Homo sapiens: one gene and its partner. The gene in region 1 interacts genetically with each later gene. Each region holds a gene or a part of one and is shown on either strand. Other genes may lie near its edges.

Evidence for each region.
Region 2: changes in BOD1L1 (region 1) and SCYL1 together harm fitness more than expected from each alone (negative genetic interaction), as found in Homo sapiens cells (one large-scale study listed by BioGRID).

The regions. Positions count from the first base shown.
Region 1 is NC_000004.12:13,621,226-13,624,725, reverse strand, and holds part of BOD1L1 (biorientation of chromosomes in cell division protein 1-like 1), read left to right. Parts: intron 1-3,500. UniProt on the Homo sapiens protein: Component of the fork protection machinery required to protect stalled/damaged replication forks from uncontrolled DNA2-dependent resection.
Region 2 is NC_000011.10:65,528,083-65,531,582, forward strand, and holds part of SCYL1 (N-terminal kinase-like protein), read left to right. Parts: intron 1-2,546; coding exon 2,547-2,705; intron 2,706-3,493; coding exon 3,494-3,500. UniProt on the Homo sapiens protein: Regulates COPI-mediated retrograde protein traffic at the interface between the Golgi apparatus and the endoplasmic reticulum. Involved in the maintenance of the Golgi apparatus morphology.

The sequences.
Region 1 (3,500 bases):
CAAAGTCTGCTGCTACACCAGAAGACCACAGAACCCTGGTCTTCTGGGAGGCCGAGGTGGGTGGATCATTAGAGGTCAGGAGTTCGAGGCCAACCTGACCAAAATGGTGAAACCCCATCTCTAGTAAAAATACAAAAAAAGTAGCCATGTATGGTGGCACATGCCTGTAGTCCCAGCTACTCGGGAGGCTGAGGCAGGAGAATTGCTTGAAGCCAGGAGACAGAGGTTGCAGTTAGCCGAGATTGTGCCAGTGCACTCCAGCCTGGGAGACAGAACAAGACTTGGTCTAAAAAACAAAAATTTTTAAAAAGCAACAATACACATTTTTCAATACAGTTGCATATACTATTTAATAATTATGAAAATTTCTAATATTTCTGTTGCTTTGAGAAATTAGAACTGAAATGACACCCTCCCAGACAAAAAAGAACACTCAGCTATGGTTGAAGTTCTGGTGCTCAGACGCTAGCTTAAACTCTCCCACAAAATCTCTCTCTCTCTCCCCCTCCCTGCCACTAACCTCTGTACCTGCTCCTGGTTATGTTACAGGTTATGTTCTGGTACTTCCTTTACCCCATGACTCTCTCCTTCTCTTCTACTCCCTTAGTTAGCAATTAGGTAGATTTTAATTTGATTTAAAAGATTTGTTCTCATTGAATACCATTTTATACTTCATTTTCTTATTTGAAAAAAAAAAAAATATATTCCCCCCTGCTTCCCAAAAAGCCAAAGTTTTCTTCATCAGAACATAACATTCATATCAATATGATGAGTGGGCCAAAGTAGAAGATTCCCTGTTCATGCAAAGAACCATCACTTTAATGGAATCCTTGAGTTTCATCTGCCACTTGAACCTCAAAGACTGACCTGCTTTCTGTCAAAAAGTCTTAACTTGTAGCATATAGAGTTATAGTGGATTATGTCTGTCACATGCATATTTAAGAATGAAGACATTTGATACCTGCCAGGTGCTAAGAGCAAAACTGTCATCCAGTTTAGTGTGTTTAAACCAGGATGAGAAGTACCAAAGTCTGCTGCTACACCAGAAGACCATAGAACCCCCCTCCAAACTGTCCAGGGTCATTGATAGTCCTTAACCAGGAGAGAGATCTGACTGTAACAGACCAAATCAGCCCTTCCCACCCAAAGAAATGGAACCATGGGCAACCCTAAGCTCCAACTACTGCAAAGACTCCTCCGTTATAGACTACCAGTTTCCAGATCTCTGGAGCAAGCTTAGTGGTTACAAAGCCATTCTGTCTCCTTTGCACTGATTAGCATCTGGAGCGTGTGAGGAGGGATGATCAAGAGGCCCTTCAGGGAGCTCGCCAGCCAGGTAAATATGGTACCTCTCTTGTCAAGTAAGAAAGTCTGATTTTTTGGACACTTTCTTAGTTATAAATGGCCCCTGGTCAATTTATTCACCCAACAAACATTCATTGAGCAACTCTTATGTACCAGTCATTTTTTTAGGTGCCAGGGATACAGCAGTGAACCAAACATCCCACTGTTATGGAGCTTACATCCTAGTAGAAAAAAAAAATAGACAACAAGTAATGTATGGTAGGTCCTATGGAAAAAAGCAAGATGAGGGATGGATGGGCTTACTGTTTTATTTCGAATAAGCTGTTCAGGGTAGGTTTCAATGTGATGATACTTGAGCCATCTGTGAAGGAATTGAAGGGGCAATGCAGCTGTCTGGGGCTTGAGCATTCCAAGAAGAGAGCATAGCAAGTATAGAAGAGCTGAGACAGACCCACTAAGGGGAAAGTGACAAGAGGTGAGGTAGGTATGCCTTCACAGATCTGGCAGGTCTTGGGAGCCATCAGAAGACCTTGGCTTTTACTCGAGCTCAGAAGCCATTGGCAGGTTTTGAGCAAAAGAAGGACATGATCTGACTTCCATTTCAGATGGGTTGACCACGTGTAATAGCTTCCCCTTTCTTGCTAAGTTGTGATTTGAATGGGTCAATAAATTACATGGTTACCTGATTTTTAGAAGACAACTTTGTTGTAGGTAAGGATAGAATTCTGCATGAGGCCAGTTGTTATAATTCAGACAGATGAGAATGCCTTGGAACAGATTGAGGTCAGTAAAGGTAGTGGGAAGTGGTCAGATTCTGGGTGTATTTTCATGCTACTGTTGAGAGAATTTGCTAATAGTATGCATGTGAAGTAGAAGACAAAGGGAGGACTCAAGGATAACTCTAAGGCTTTTCACCAAAGCACTGGAAAAGGAAGAAAGGGTGGAAGTATGTGTAATATATGTGTGTGTGTATATATGTGTACATGTGGGTACATACATGTTCCTAGGAGAATACTTCTCAATGAATACTTAATATTTCTCTAGTTGCTCAACTTTTTACTGAAAGGAGAGCTTGAAAACAAGGAAAATTACCTGTTGAGTAGTTCAGATTTGAACTTGTTCTGGGAAGACTAGACTAGAATGCCAAATGCATTGTGATGTTAGAGCCTAATGAATGTGTGTTAGATTTGGGAATACCGGAAAGAAGAATTAGGCTTTAGAATCATTGGGGAGAAAGAATTAAGAATTAGTTTTAGGGCTGGGTATGGTGGCTGACACCTGTAATCCCAGCACTTTGGGAGGCCGAGAAAGGTGGATCACTTGAGGTTAGGAGTTCAAGACCAACATGGCCAATATAGCAAGACCTTGTCTCCACTAAAAATACAAAAATTAGCCAGGTGTGGTGGCGCATGCCTGTAGTCCCAGCTACTCAGGAGCCTGAGGCACTAGAATCACTGGAACCCGGCAGGTGGAGGTTCCAGTGAGCCGAGATCACACCACTGTACTCTAGCATGGGCAATCGAGCAAGACTCTGCCAAAAAAAAAAAAAAAAAAGAATTAATTTTAGTTCATATCGATTTTGGATAAATGGACAGGCACATAGGAAATGATCATGTAGGACAGGAAATAAGTATCAGCAAAGGCCTGAAAATTGGAACTGATGAAAGGGCATCAGAGGGATAAAATGTTTGTCATTCTGTGTTAGAGATAGTTACCCATTCAGCTAACAAGTATATTTTAATTGCTCATTTGCCAAGCAGTGTGATAGGCTATATGAAAACAAATTGTAAGAGAGATAGAGGAGGAGGCTTACACATCAATGGAGGATAAATATGCCTTGCTTCCGAAAATACAATGTAGTGCAAGAATTGCTCGAATGGTAGCATGTATAGAAAACAGTAGGAGCGTGGATGAAGAGCCCATAAGCCTACCTTCGGTGTCAAGATGATTTCACAGATTAGGGTGAGCTCTGAAGGTGAGAAGTTTGTCAGATGGACAACCAGAGGGAATGGTAGTTGCAGGATGGTAGGTGCAGATATGAGAATTTCTCACTGGAGTGTAAACTTTGAAGCTAAAAGGAGGCAAATGGCAGAAGGTGAGGCTATACAGTGCTTGCTTAATATCAGTCAGGGACACTCAAACTCATCCACATTAAAAGCTGTATAGAAGAAAGGTAGAAAGAACATCAGTGTTGG
Region 2 (3,500 bases), on another chromosome or scaffold:
AAAAGTAAACAGACCAGATCCCCAACCTTGGGAACTCTTGCTGGGGAAGAGACAGAAAACATAAAAACCATAAATAAGAGCCAGGTGCAGTGGCTCACGCCTGTAATCCCAGCACTTTGGGAGGCTGAGGCGGGTGGATCACCTGAGGTCGGGAGTTCGATACCAGCTGACGACATGGAGAAACCCCATCTCTACTAAAAGTACAAAAATTAGCCGGGAGTGGTGGCACATGCCTGTAATCCCGGCTACTCAGGAAGGCTGGGGCAGGAAAATCGCTTGAACCTGGGAGGTGGAGGTTGCAGTGAGCCAAGATTGTGCCATTGCATTCTAGCCTGGGCAACAAGAGCAAATCTCCGTCTCAAAACAAACAAAAGAACACCATAAATAAGAAAACCAGCCAGTGCGGTGGCTCCCGCCTGTAAACCCAGCACTTTGGGAGGCCGGGGCTGGCGGATTATTTGAGGTCAGGAGTTTGAGACCAGCCTGACCAACATGGAGAAACCCCGTCTCTACTAAAAATACAAAAAACTAGCCAGGCATGGTGGCGCATACCTGTAATCCCAGCTACTCCAGAGGCTGAGGCGGGAGAATAGCTTGAACCTGGGAGGCAGGAGGTTGCAGTGAGCCGAGATCGCACCATTGCACTCCAGCCTGGGCAACAAGAGCAAAACTCAGTCTTAAAAAAAAAGAAAAGAAAAATCCAGTGCAGGAAGGAAAGTACTGGAGTGGGTATTCAGGGATGGGCTCTCTGAAGTGTGACATTGGAGCTGGGGCCTGAAGGACATGACTGTGGGAGCCAGAGGGATGGTACCTGGAGTAAGAGTTCCAGGCAGAGGCGACAGCACGTGGAGAGATACTGAGGAGGGAGCCCTCTGCTTTGCCTCTGAACCTTGGTTTCCACATGTGTATAGTGAGGAGCATCTGGGTGCACTGGCCTGCAGGGTTGCTGTAGGGAGGAGGGAGGAAGGCTCTGCTCTATGCAATGCCCGGCCCCAGCCGTGTGTGGGGAAGACAGCGGGGGCTGAGAATCAGAATCAGGAGCAGGGGAGGAGAGTGGCAGACACTCCACAGACCCTGACCCAGCAGAGGTCATGGAATCTTGACTCAGATGCTGTGGGGCGGGGAGGGCCTTTGGAGGGTGGAAACCTGGAAGGAGAAGCTGCTGGAAACGCTGAGACCCCGTTGCCTCCTGGGCAGTGTCGGGGCAGCAGGAACTTTGTTACGTGGAGTTCTCCTCGTACGGCTGGCTCTGCCAAGCTACCCTTCTCCTTAAAGTGTACCCCATAGGAAATAGGGTTTCGGGAGCCTCCAGGAGAACATGGGAGGGCAGTGCCCAGGGGCCCCTCTTCCCATTGTTAGGTGGAGTGGTGGGGAGAACCCAGCTGCTACTCTCTTGATGTATGACCTTGGATGTGATTTAGCCTCTCTGGGCCTTGGCCCCGCTGAACCATGTGATCAGAGCACCAAGCCGGCCTCCCACGCTGGTCTGAGCTGCTCAAGGGCCATCTAGGTCCTCTTTGTCCCAAGCCAGAGGTCGCCTCTCCCCGGCCAAGCCGCGGCTATGGGGGTGGTGGTACAACAGAGAGCACAGGGACTTTGGAACACAACACTGGGTCATGACCCCTGCCTGGCCACTCTTGGCTGCTGACCTTGACCCTCTGTCTCCTCCTTTGTGAATGGGGGGAGTGACAGCATCTTTTGAAGGGTACAGCACAGGAGAGGTGCCAAACCAGTGAGTCAGACCCTCCTCTGACCGCTTCTTAGCTGTGTGACTTTGGACAAGCTCCTTGCCCTCTCTGTGCCTCAGCTTCCTTGTTGGTAAAATGTGGATTACATTAGCACCTACCTGGTAAAGTTGTGAAGAGGACTGAGATAATCTGTGTAAAGGTTTTAGCACATAATCTGTGCTCCAGAAATATGAATTGGGGGTATTATGGCCTCAAAGGGGGGTTAGGAGGACTAAAGGAGACCGTTGAGCTTACAGGCTGGTCCATTTTGGCTCAGTGGGAGGATGAGGTCTGGGAGTAAAGTGTACCTAATCCTTGCCTTCCCACGGCCTACCAGGAACTTCCTGCCCAATCCAGCCAGGGCAGGGAAACCAAGTAAGCCCCTTCACCTCTTTGATCTTCAGTTTCCTCCTCTGTGCTCACATCCTGGGTGGCGAGCAGTAGAGGCAACACTGATAAAGGGCCTGATGCCCTTAGTGATGCCTCTGCTGTCCCTAGTGGCTGCTCTCCCAGCAACAGGTCAGGTAGCCGCAATGGCAGCAACAGTCCCTAACCCACCGAGCATCTGCCGTGTGCCAGCCTGTTCTGCAGCTTTTATGTGCATTTTCTGGTTGAATCCCAGAACTATCCCGTAGATGGTAGAGCTGTTATCCCATTTTACATGGCAGGTAAGTGGGACAGTTGGGCTTTGAACCCAGGCAGCCAGGCTCCAGAGCCCATAAGGCCCATAAGCATCACTTCTCCTTGTCCTCACCCATGGCTGGGTTTGGGCTGCAACCAGGCTGATCTCTTCCCCGGGTCCCGTCCTCACTCCCCCAGATCAAAGAGCCAGCCGAGAAGCAAAAATTCTTCCAGGAGCTGAGCAAGAGCCTGGACGCATTCCCTGAGGATTTCTGTCGGCACAAGGTGCTGCCCCAGCTGCTGACCGCCTTCGAGTTCGGCAATGCTGGGGCCGTTGTCCTCACGCCCCTCTTCAAGGTGAGTGGAACTGTGGGGTCCAGAAGGCTGGCTGGGTGCACAGGAACTGCCAAAGAGAAGGCCCTGGGGTAGGGCAGGCTGTTTAGGGCAGACCCAAGCCCATATGAGCAGGAGCTTCCTGCCAGTGTCTATAAACAGGTACCTGACCAGCTGTCCCCTGGGGAGGAGAGACTCTGCCGCTAAAATCCTTTTTTCCACAAACCTCTGGCTTCACAACCCTCAGCCCTTCCTCCATTTCTCCGGGTCTGACCTGTGCACCTTGGTTCCCAGGGCCCAGGGGATTACCTACTCACCACCCCACTTTGCCCTCCTCCCTCCTGACTGCTTAGCACTCAGCTCACCTGACTTCTGGGGGCTGGATCTTCCACCCTTTCCTCAGACCCCAGCCCGCCTTTTTATGGGCACCTGGCATTCCCTGCCCTCCTCACCTTGGGGAGAACCCTTTCATCTGAAAGACTTGTCAGGAGGGGAGAAGACAACAAGCAAGTCCTGTATAGCTGAGAACCCCCAGAAATTGCAGGCAGAATTTCTGCATATGGCATAAAGGTACCTGTTTGTAGGGAGGGGCCCAGAGCTTTCATCAGCCTCCTGAAAGAGGCCTTGGCCCAGAAAGGTTAAGGGCAAGGCTGAGATGGAATATGGGTAGAGGAGCTACTGAGGAAATGCCTGCCCCCCCCTCCGCCATCACTTCATTCCCACCCTGGGATATCAGCCCCAGGAATTTAGATAAGCCCAGCAAAGTCAGCCCATTCCTGTGAGCAGCTGAACCCATCTTCCTGCCCTTTCAGGTGGGCA